Linked DNA regions of Homo sapiens: region 2 is linked to region 1. The links come from fine-mapping of genetic effects on gene expression. A gene starts in region 1. The other region holds a variant in brackets. All regions are shown on one strand. Distances are between the middles of the regions. Region 1 holds the start of SNHG26 (small nucleolar RNA host gene 26). Region 2 has its middle 24 kb from the start of HYCC1.

What was found. PIP is the estimated chance that this variant, and not a neighbour inherited with it, causes the effect. A credible set is the group of variants that fine-mapping cannot tell apart.
Region 2: its variant is the best candidate, but not a certain one, in a credible set for the expression of SNHG26 in whole blood (INTERVAL, PIP 0.50).

What each region holds. Positions count from the first base shown.
Region 1 is chr7:22,852,014-22,857,208 of GRCh38, reverse strand. SNHG26 (small nucleolar RNA host gene 26) reads right to left here and starts at 2,969. Exons shown (of 5, transcript NR_146320.1): 1 at 2,929-2,969; 2 at 653-687; 3 at 193-236. SNORD93 (small nucleolar RNA, C/D box 93) reads right to left here and starts at 596; the gene lies at 523-596. RefSeq lists enhancers at 1,965-2,194, 1,986-2,597 and a silencer at 2,695-3,154.
Region 2 is chr7:23,035,497-23,040,729 of GRCh38, reverse strand. No RefSeq gene overlaps it. Among named protein-coding and RNA genes, the nearest start is that of HYCC1, 24 kb to the right of the region's middle. The variant G/A (reference allele first, on the strand shown) is at 3,138.

The DNA of each region.
Region 1 (5,195 bases):
CACAGAAATGTTCTACAGGATCAAGTCAGCTATAAGGCAGTTTTGTGTCTCCAAAACTGTCAAATAATATTCCTATAGATGATTGGGGCCATCTCAAAATTCAACCTTGCTACCACTGTGAAAGGGACAAAAAAAAAAAAAAAAAAGCAACCTCTATTCTGTAGATACTAAAGGTTACATATTCAAATATACCTCCTCTACTTGAAAAGCTTCACTGATTCTTTCAAGCGCCAGACCTGTAAAAGAAGTATCACAGTAGGTATTACTAAATAGCAAAATACAGTACTGTCTAGACTGTTTACAAAAACTGTGCAAGTAAGTAAATAAAATCGTCCAGTATCTTACACACTGTTGCTTTAGTAATGTTGTGACATCTAAATTTATGTTTTCACTCAAAATCCTGTCTTTCTCTTGGCTTAGTAGTATTATCCATTTACCAAGAGCTTTTTCCCTTTTACCAAAAGCGTAATTTTAAAAGGGGGGGGGGTATGATTCCATTTAATAAATTCCTGCATACCAATTTGGCCTCAGGTAAATCCTTTAATCCATCACAGCAGAAGCACATAAAATCAGATTAGAGTTCTCATCCTTGGCCACAATTTCAATTCAACTATTAATAACTTAAACCAAATTCTTTCCACTCGGCCCATACCTTAAGTTCATCAGCATCTTGAAACTCCACCAAGCCTGGTTAAAAAAAGTGAAAGACAATGTTAAGAATATCATGCAATTTTGTTTTTTAATGAGTGGTCTTTATGGTGGCTATCCAATAGCTCTCTTTGATGAGTAAATAAATTGCTATCTCTGAATATAATTCCTGTACAAATTCTCCAAATTTCCTGATACTTGGGAGTCTTCTGTAGTTTCCAGCTAGGAGGAAAATGGTCAGGAGTCACTATCTTCCCACTGATGAGCATTGAATCCTATCCATTTTTGAAAAGAAACACTATCCCAACAATATTTGTCTGGGAAAAACTGAAACAAACCTTCCACAGATTTGAAAATCAAAGGAAGCACTATTAAACTCGCTTACCCTGAGGCTGAGTTCAGGGGGCTGGGAAGTTTCTAGTTCTGGGCACTTGCTCAGTTTTCACAATCCTTAGACGCTAGCTCACACTGCTTCCTTGACATGGTGTCTCTCACAGTTTAAACTGAATAGTTAAAAAACAATTTGGCAGGCCGGGTGCGCTGACTCACGCCTGTAATCCCAGCACTTTGGGAGGCTGAGGCTGGCGAATCACCAGCTCAGGAGTTCAAGACCAGCCTGGCCAACAAGGTGACACCCCGTCTCTACTAAAAAATACAAACAGTTGGGCATGGTGGCGGGCACCTGTAATCCCAGCTACTCAGGAGGCTGAGGCAGGAGAATTTCTTGAACCCGGGAGGCAGAGGTTGCAGTGAGCCGAGATTGCGCCGTTGCACCACAGCCTGGGTGACAGAGCGAGTCTCCGACTCAAAAAAATAAATAAAATAAAATAAAAATAAAATGGGCTCAATAAGAATCTCTAACACCTAAAGCAATGGTAAAACAAAGCCTTACCACCGCTATCTTCCTGTGCTGTATATAGGGCTATTCGCCAGAGCTGGAGGTATTCCAGGGAGGGAAAATTGTCCATGCTCTGGGTCTATCTATAACGCTGGATAAAAGATGCCTAGAACCTAGGCTGCAAATGTACAAGCTTTCCTCATTAAAGAATGGTAAAATGGGTCCCATTTGGTTTCATCAAAAAGGCAGCAAATCTTTCACAACTGAGGAAAACAGGTGAACCACGAGCTTCACATTCCAACAGAACTGTGGTACCTATGCTAGCCACAAAGATTATTTGTTGACTCAAATGTAAATTTAGATCTTTATCAATTTTACTAAATTCGCAAAGTATCCCTTTATATAGCATTTTGTACCAGTAATGAACAATTAGTATGCTCAGCGATGCTCAGGAGAGCCGCTCCAAAAACTTACATTATTCCCCAGACAAACGTTCTCTAGGGGCAGCCTTGCGTATTTCTACACCTTAGTAGACCTAAGTTAGGCGTTCAACACCTTGTCCTGGTCCAAGCCAGAAAGAACCCAGTAGTTCAGACTTTTCCCAGGTCAGAAAACCACGAAGGGCCTCCTCACACCCTGATTAAACGTTGGAAGCGGGCCCTGTGCTGTAATAACGCTCTGGCCACTCCCAAAAAAGCGAATCTTCGGGAGGAAAGCAGGCTCCCTTATTAGGGCTCACAGCACTCCGCTCAACTTACTGTAGGCGTCGGCTCCAGCAAGACTCGTCCCTCCAAGCCTTTAAATTATCTGACTGCGGGCCAGTAGCAAATGAACGGCACTGGTGGCGGTGGGGGATGGCTGCGCGAGTGAAATGACCTCCGTGTGTTTGCTAACCCCGCTATTATACTGCCCCGCTTAGAAACTTAAAGCGCTTCAGACATCAGATCTCACTCGCTTCCCAAATAGGCTTCCGTCCGCGCGGTCACAGCCCCTGGGCAGGCAGGAGCCCCGAGTGCACCAAGAACCCAGAGACCGTCCGGGGCTCGGCGCCTCCGCCTGCGGTTGGAATTTGATCCTCAAAATGCAATCATTTAATTGAAAAAGGACTAAAAGCTGCCTGTAGGCCGAATGCGTGGACGGCAGGGACTCAGGCACGGGAGGTGACGGGCGCCTGGCGGCTTCTGCTGAGTGGGGGTGGGATCCTCGAGGAAAGGGGGCGGCCCCTTCAAGCGCACAAGGACACGGGCCGTCCTAACCCGGGACGAAGGGCCCAAGCGCCACGAGGACGCCCCCACCCCCGAGGGGCCCTAACGGAGGCTTCCCCGCGGCGCCGAGCCGAGGCCTCGGCGTGGGGGCAGCGAGAGGCGCGCCTAGGAAGCGCACGGGGTAGCCCCGGAGCCACGTGGTCGGCTCCTGCGTCCAGAAGGTCCGAGCCCACTTACCCAGTCACGCGCCGCGGCCGAAAAGGGAGGGCACTGCGGAGATCAAGTTTAAAAGGGGCCTGGGCGGGGCGGCACCAACCAAAAAGTTGCCGGAAGGCCCCTCCGGGTCCAGCACCCGCCCCGCCCGCGGGGCCCGGAGGCCCTCGCGCGCCCCCTGTCGGCGGCCCGGGCCTTCCCCGCCTTGGGCCCCCCCCCCCACCCCACACGGCCCCGGCTCCCACTTGGCCCCGGCTCCCACTTTGCCCCGGCCTCCGAGTCTGGGGAGTCTGCCCCAAACTCTCGCTGGCTGTGATGTCTCTTTACCTCGTTGAAGGTCAGAGGAAGCTCCTGCCACTCAAATAATGTTAGGTGTCTCTGGTACCCACTCCCCTCCCTTGCCTGGTGTTTCTTAAAGTCTTCAGCCACGCCCCTGGGTGCTTCTTTCAAGACTCGTCTAATTACGTAGCAGAAGACTGGCTCCCGTTAAAGGATGTGAACATTAGCGGAGGTCGGGGGTGCAAACTCATCGAAGAGGGGTTGAAGCACGGGGAGGACTCCTGGTGCCTGGAGTGCTGCATGCTTAGAATGATGGCCACGGCCCGCAAATATCTTGCCCCCAAAGCACGTCTGTGTCATTGGACTGTGAGGAGGAAGGGGAGAAGGTATTCTGACTGCAGTAAAATAAGCAGGTCTGTTGGCTGGATGCCTAAGCAGCACTACATATAGAACATGAGTGTTAAGGACTGAATTTGTCCCCACTCCCAAAGACATTGAAGACCTAACCTCCAGCACCTGTGAATGCGACCTAACTTGGAAAAACTGCGTCTTTACAGATGTGGTCAAGACGAGATCATTGGGGTGGACCCTCCTAATTCAACATGACTGATGTCCTTATCACACGGTGTCAAAATGCCACTTGAAGACAGAGACACACGAAAATGTGGCGGGACAGGGGCAGATCAGAGTGATGCAGCTGTAAGCCCAGGAATGCGGTGGATTGCCGGCCACCACCGGAGAAAGGCTAGGAAGAGGCAAGGAAGGACCCTCCCCTGCAGATTTCAGAGGGAGCTTGGTGTTTGGTTCTGCTGACACTTTGATTTTGGACTTCTAGTCACAAGAAATGTGAGACAAAACATTTCTGTTAAGTCACCGAGTGCTTTGTTAAGGCATCCCTAGGGAATTAATACAAGGACTGTGGGGACTTTCCCTCTGCCGTTCTGTGTAAAATCTGGCCATAAAGACATTATTTGACTTCCCTTGTTTGACTGTAGGTCATAAGACCCCCATTCCAGAGGGAGTCCTGTCCCATACCCAGAAGGAAAGAGTGCATGCTCAGAGAGGCCAAGAAGAATCCAGACAGACAGGCCTTGCTGGGTTTTCTCCCTCTATTAGTCTTAGATCATACACTTTTTGTCCGATCACATTTCTACGTCACTGCCCATACTTTGTTGAACCTAGGCATAAAAATGGATAATTTCCCCTGTATCTTTGGGTCTTCATTTGAAGGATCCCGGGTATACACATTAAATACATTTATATGCTTTTTCTCCAATTAATCTGCCTTTTGCAAGTTGATTTTTTAGTGAACCTTAAGAGGGCAAAGGGAAAACTTTCCATGTTGGCCCCTACAGATTGCTCAGTGCAGCAAATACTTATTGAGTGCCTATTCTATGCCAGGTGCTGTGATTGGTGTTGGAGGGTGTGAAGTTCAATGAGAAACTGCCCCTGCACTAAAGTGAGGAATATAAAATGAGATTCACCCACTGATAGAAGCCCATGAAGAGTGCCAAGGGCACAGCATAAAGCCACAAAGCCCAGCCTGCTAAGGCTACAGGAAAGGCTTCCAGAAGGAAGAGGTACCTATTAGTACAATGAGTGTAGCATGACCAGCAGGAAACTCATATGCTGCATGAAATTTAGGAGAGGAAAGAAGCAAAGAGGCCAAGAGAGTTACAGAAAAATCATAGGATAATAGAGTGCAGGGGACTTTAATAGGTCATCTAGGATTATTCTCTGGTGGGTGGAGCTGGTCTTAGGGTGTTGTCATGCAGAGTTGCCATGATGGTGCAATGTAGGCTCCATGAGAACTCTGTTTCCTTCTCTACTGAATCCCCCGAATTCAGTGTAAACGCCTAGAATATATTTAGATAAGGGGAAAAACTCCTTATCTAAATATCCTTATCAGAGGAAGAGATTATTCCCCCAAAGCAGTTCAATATTCATACCATAAAACTCTTCAAGGCTGATAATGGGGCAGTAGTGGGGTTTTATCCCAGGCGGTAGCTTCC
Region 2 (5,233 bases), 180 kb before region 1:
AGAAAGAAATAAGGGGACCCGGGGAACCAGCATTCAGCATATGGAGGATCCCGCCAGCCTCTGAGTTCCCTTAGTATTTATTGATCATCTGTGGGTGTTTCTCGAAGAGGGGGATGTGTCAGGGTCACAAGACAATTGTGGGGAGAGGGTCAGCAGACAAACACGTGAACAAAGGTCTTTGCATCATAGACAATGTAAAGGATTAAGTGCTGTGCTTTTAGATATGCATACACATAAACATCTCAATGCTTTACAAAGCAGTATTGCTGCCCGCAGGTCCCACCTCCAGCCCTAAGGCGGTTTTTCCCTATCTCAGTAGATGGAGCATACAATCGGGTTTTATACCGAGACATTCCATTGCCCAGGGACAGGCAGGAGACAGATGCCTTCCTCTTGTCTCAACTGCAAGAGGCATTCCTTCCTCTTTTACTAATCCTCCTCAGCACAGACCCTTTACGGGTGTCGGGCTGGGGGACGGTCAGGTCTTTCCCTTCCCACGAGGCCATATTTCAGACTATCACATGGGGAGAAACCTTGGACAATACCTGGCTTTCCTAGGCAGAGGTCCCTGCGGCCTTCCGCAGTTTTTGTGTCCCTGGGTACTTGAGATTAGGGAGTGGTGATGACTCTTAAGGAGCATGCTGCCTTCAAGCATCTGTTTAACAAAGCACATCTTGCACCGCCCTTAATCCATTTAACTCTGAGTTGACACAGCACATGTTTCAGAGAGCACGGGGTTGGGGGTAAGGTTATAGATTAACAGAATCTCAAGGCAGAAGAATTTTTCTTAGTACATAACAAAATGGAGTCTCCTATGTCTACTTCTTTCTACACAGACACAGTAACAATCTGATCTCTCTTGCTTTTCCCCACATGAGACGATGGGGTTTTCTAGATAAACAATCATGTCGTCTGCAAACAGGGACAATTTGACTTCCTCTTTTCCTAATTGAATACCCTTTATTTCCTTCTCCTGCCTGATTGCCCTGGCCATAACTTCCAACACTATGTTGAATAGGAGTGGTGAGAGAGGGCATCCCTGTCTTGTGCCAGTTTTCAAAGGGAATGCTTCCAGTTTTTGCCCATTCAGTATGATATTGGCTGTGGGTTTGTCATAGATAGTTCTTATTATTTTGAAATACGTCCCATCAATACCTAATTTATTGAGAGTTTTTAGCATGAAGGGTTGTTGAATTTTGTCAAAGGCTTTTTCTGCATCTATTGAGATAATCATGTGGTTTTTGTCTTTGGCTCTGTTTATATGCTGGATTACATTTATTGATTTGCGTATATTGAACCAGCCTTGCATCCCAGGGATGAAGCCCACTTGATCATGGTGGATAAGCTTTTTGATGTGCTGCTGGATTCGGTTTGCCAGTATTTTATTGAGGATTTTTGCATCAATGTTCATCAAGGATATTGGTCTAAAATTCTCTGTTTTGGTTGTGTCTCTGCCCGGCTTTGGTATCAGAATGATGCTGGCCTCATAAAATGAGTTACGGAGGATTCCCTCTTTTTCTATTGATTGGAATAGTTTCAGAAGGAATGGTACCAGTTCCTCCTTGTACCTCTGGTAGAATTCGGCTGTGAATCCATCTGGTCCTGGACTCTTTTTGGTTGGTAAACTATTGATTATTGCCCCAATTTCAGCTCCTGTTATTGGTCTATTCAGAGATTCAACTTCTTCCTGATTTAGTCTTGGGAGAGTGTATGTGTCGAGGAATGTATCCATTTCTTCTAGATTTTCTAGTTTATTTGCGTAGAGGTGTTTGTAGTATTCTCTGATGGTAGTTTGTATTTCTGTGGGATCAGTGGTGATATCCCCTTTATCATTTTTTATTGTGTCTATTTGATTCTTCTCTCTTTTTTTCTTTATTAGTCTTGCTAGCGGTCTATCAATTTTGTTGATCCTTTCAAAAAACCAGCTCCTGGATTCATTGATTTTTTGAAGGGTTTTTTGTGTCTCTATTTCCTTCAATTCTGCTCTGATTTTAGTTATTTCTTGCCTTCTGCTAGCTTTTGAATGTGTTTGCTCTTGCTTTTCTAGTTCTTTTAATTGTGATGTGAGGGTGTCAATTTTAGATCTTTCCTGCTTTCTCTTGTGGGCATTCAGTGCTATAAATTTCCCTCTACACACTGCTTTGAATGCGTCCCAGAGATTCTGGTATGTTGTGTCTTTGTTCTCGTTGGTTTCAAAGAACATCTTTATTTCTGCCTTCATTTCGTTATGTACCCAGTAGTCATTCAGGAGCAGGTTGTTCAGTTTCCATGTAGTTGAGCGGCTTTGAGTGAGATTCTTAATCCTGAGTTCTAGTTTGATTGCACTGTGGTCTGAGAGATAGTTTGTTATAATTTCTGTTCTTTTACATTTGCTGAGGAGAGCTTTACTTCCAACTATGTGGTCAATTTTGGAATAGGTGTGGTGTGGTGCTGAAAAGAATGTATATTCTGTTGATTTGGGGTGGAGAGTTCTGTAGATGTCTATTAGGTCTTCTTGGTACAGAGCTGAGTTCAATTCCTGGGTATCCTTGTTGACTTTCTGTCTCGTTGATCTGTCTAATGTTGACAGTGGGGTGTTAAAGTCTCCCATTATTAATGTGTGGGAGTCTAAGTCTCTTTGTAGGTCACTCAGGACTTGCTTTATGAATCTGGGTGCTCCTGTATTGGGTGCATATATATTTAGGATAGTTAGCTCCTCTTGTTGAATTGATCCCTTTACCATTATGTAATGGCCTTCTTTGTCTCTTTTGATCTTTGTTGGTTTAAAGTCTGTTTTATCAGAGACTAGGATTGCAACCCCTGCCTTTTTTTGTTTTCCATTTGCTTGGTAGATCTTCCTCCATCCTTTTATTTTGAGCCTATGTGTGTCTCTGCATGTGAGATGGGTTTCCTGAATACAGCACACTGATGGGTCTTGAGTCTTTATCCAACTTGCCAGTCTGTGTCTTTTAATTGGAGCATTTAGTCCATTTACATTTAAAGTTAATATTGTTATGTGTGAATTTGATCCTGTCATGATGATGTTAGCTGATGATTTTGCTCGTTAGTTGATGCAGTTTCTTCCTAGTCTCGATGGTCTTTACATTTTGGCATGATTTTGCAGCGGCTGGTACCGGTTGTTCCTTTCCATGTTTAGC[G/A]CTTCCTTCAGGAGCTCTTTTAGGGCAGGCCTAGTGGTGACAAAATCTCTCGGCATTTGCTTGTCTGTAAAGTATTTTATTTCTCCTTCACTTATGAAGCTTAGTTTGGCTGGATATGAAACTCTGGGTTGAAAATTCTTTTCTTTAAGAATGTTGAATATTGGCCCCCACTCTCTTCTGGCTTGTAGGGTTTCTGCCGAGAGATCCGCTGTTAGTCTGATGGGCTTCCCTTTGAGGGTAACCCGACCTTTCTCTCTGGCTGCCCTTAACATTTTTTCCTTCATTTCAACTTTGGTGAATCTGACAATTATGTGTCTTGGAGTTGCTCTTCTCGAGGAGTATCTTTGTGGCGTTCTCTGTATTTCCTGAATCTGAACGTTGGCCTGCCTTGCTAGATTGGGGAAGTTCTCCTGGATAATATCCTGTAGAGTGTTTTCCAACTTGGTTCCATTCTCCGCATCACTTTCAGGTACACCAATCAGACGTAGATTTGGTCTCTTCACATAGTCCCATATTTCTTGGAGGCTTTGCTCATTTCTTTTTATTCTTTTTTCTCTAACCTTCCCTTCTTGCTTCATTTCATTCATTTCATCTTCCATTGCTGATACCCTTTCTTCCAGTTGATCACATCGGCTCCTGAGGCTTCTGCATTCTTCACGTAGTTCTCGAGCCTTGGTTTTCAGCTCCATCAGCTCCTTTAAGCACTTCTCTGTATTGGTTATTCTAGTTATACATTCTTCTAAATTTTTTTCAAAGTTTTCAACTTCTTTGCCTTTGGTTTGAATGTCCTCCCGTAGCTCAGAGTAATTTGATCGTCTGAAGCCTTCTTCTCTCAGCTCGTCAAAGTCATTCTCCATCCAGCTTTGTTCCGTTGCTGGTGAGGAACTGCGTTCCTTTGGAGGAGGAGGGGCGCTCTGCGTTTTAGAGTTTCCAGTTTTTCTGTTCTGTTTTTTCCCCATCTTTGTGGTTTTATCTACTTTTGGTCTTTGATGATGGTGATGTACAGATGGGTTTTCGGTGTGGATGTCCTTTCTGTTTGTTAGTTTTCCTTCTAACAGACAGGACCCTCACCTGCAGGTCTGTTGGAATACCCTGCCGTGTGAGGTGTCAGTGTGCCCCTGCTGGGGGGTGCCTCCCAGTTAGGCTGCTCGGGGGTCAGGGGTCAGGGACCCACTTGAGGAGGCAGTCTGCCCATTCTCAGATCTCCAGCTGCGTGCTAGGAGAACCACTGCTCTCTTCAAAGCTGTCAGACAGGGACATTTAAGTCTGCAGAGGTTACTGCTGCCTTTTTGTCTGTCTGTGCCCTGCCCCCAGAGGTGGAGCCTACAGAGGCAGGCAGGCCTCCTTGAGCTGTGGTGGGCTCCACCCAGTTCGAGCTTCCCGGCTGCTTTGTTTACCTAAGCAAGCCTGGGCAATGGCGGGCGCCCCTCCCCCAGCCTCGCTGCCGCCTTGCAGTTTGATCTCAGACTGCTGTGCTAGCAATCAGCGAGATTCCGGGGGCGTAGGACCCTCCGAGCCAGGTGTGGGATATAGTCTCGTGGTGCGCCGTTTTTTAAGCCAGTCTGAAAAGCGCAATATTCGGGTGGGAGTGACCCGATTTTCCAGGTGCGTCCGTCACCCCTTTCTTTGACTCGGAAAGGGAACTCCCTGACCCCTTGCGCTTCCCAGGTGAGGCAATGCCTCGCCCTGCTTTGGCTCACGCCCGGTGCGCGCACCCACTGGCCTGCGCCCACTGTCTGGCACTCCCTAGTGAGATGAACCCGGTACCTCAGATGGAAATGCAGAAATCACCCGTCTTCTGCGTCGCTCACGCTGGGAGCTGTAGACCGGAGCTGTTCCTATTCAGCCATCTTGGCTCTATTTCCGTGCCACATTTTCTTAAACCAGTCTATCATTGATGGACATTTGGGGTGGTTCCAAGTCTTTGCTATTGTGAATAGTGCTGCAATAAACATACATGTGTATGTGTCTTTATAGCAGCATGATTTATAATCCTTTGGCTATATACCCAGTAATGGGATGGCTGGGTCAAACGGTATTTCTAGTTCTAGATCCTTGAGGAATCGCCACGCTGTCTTCCACAATGGTTGAACTAG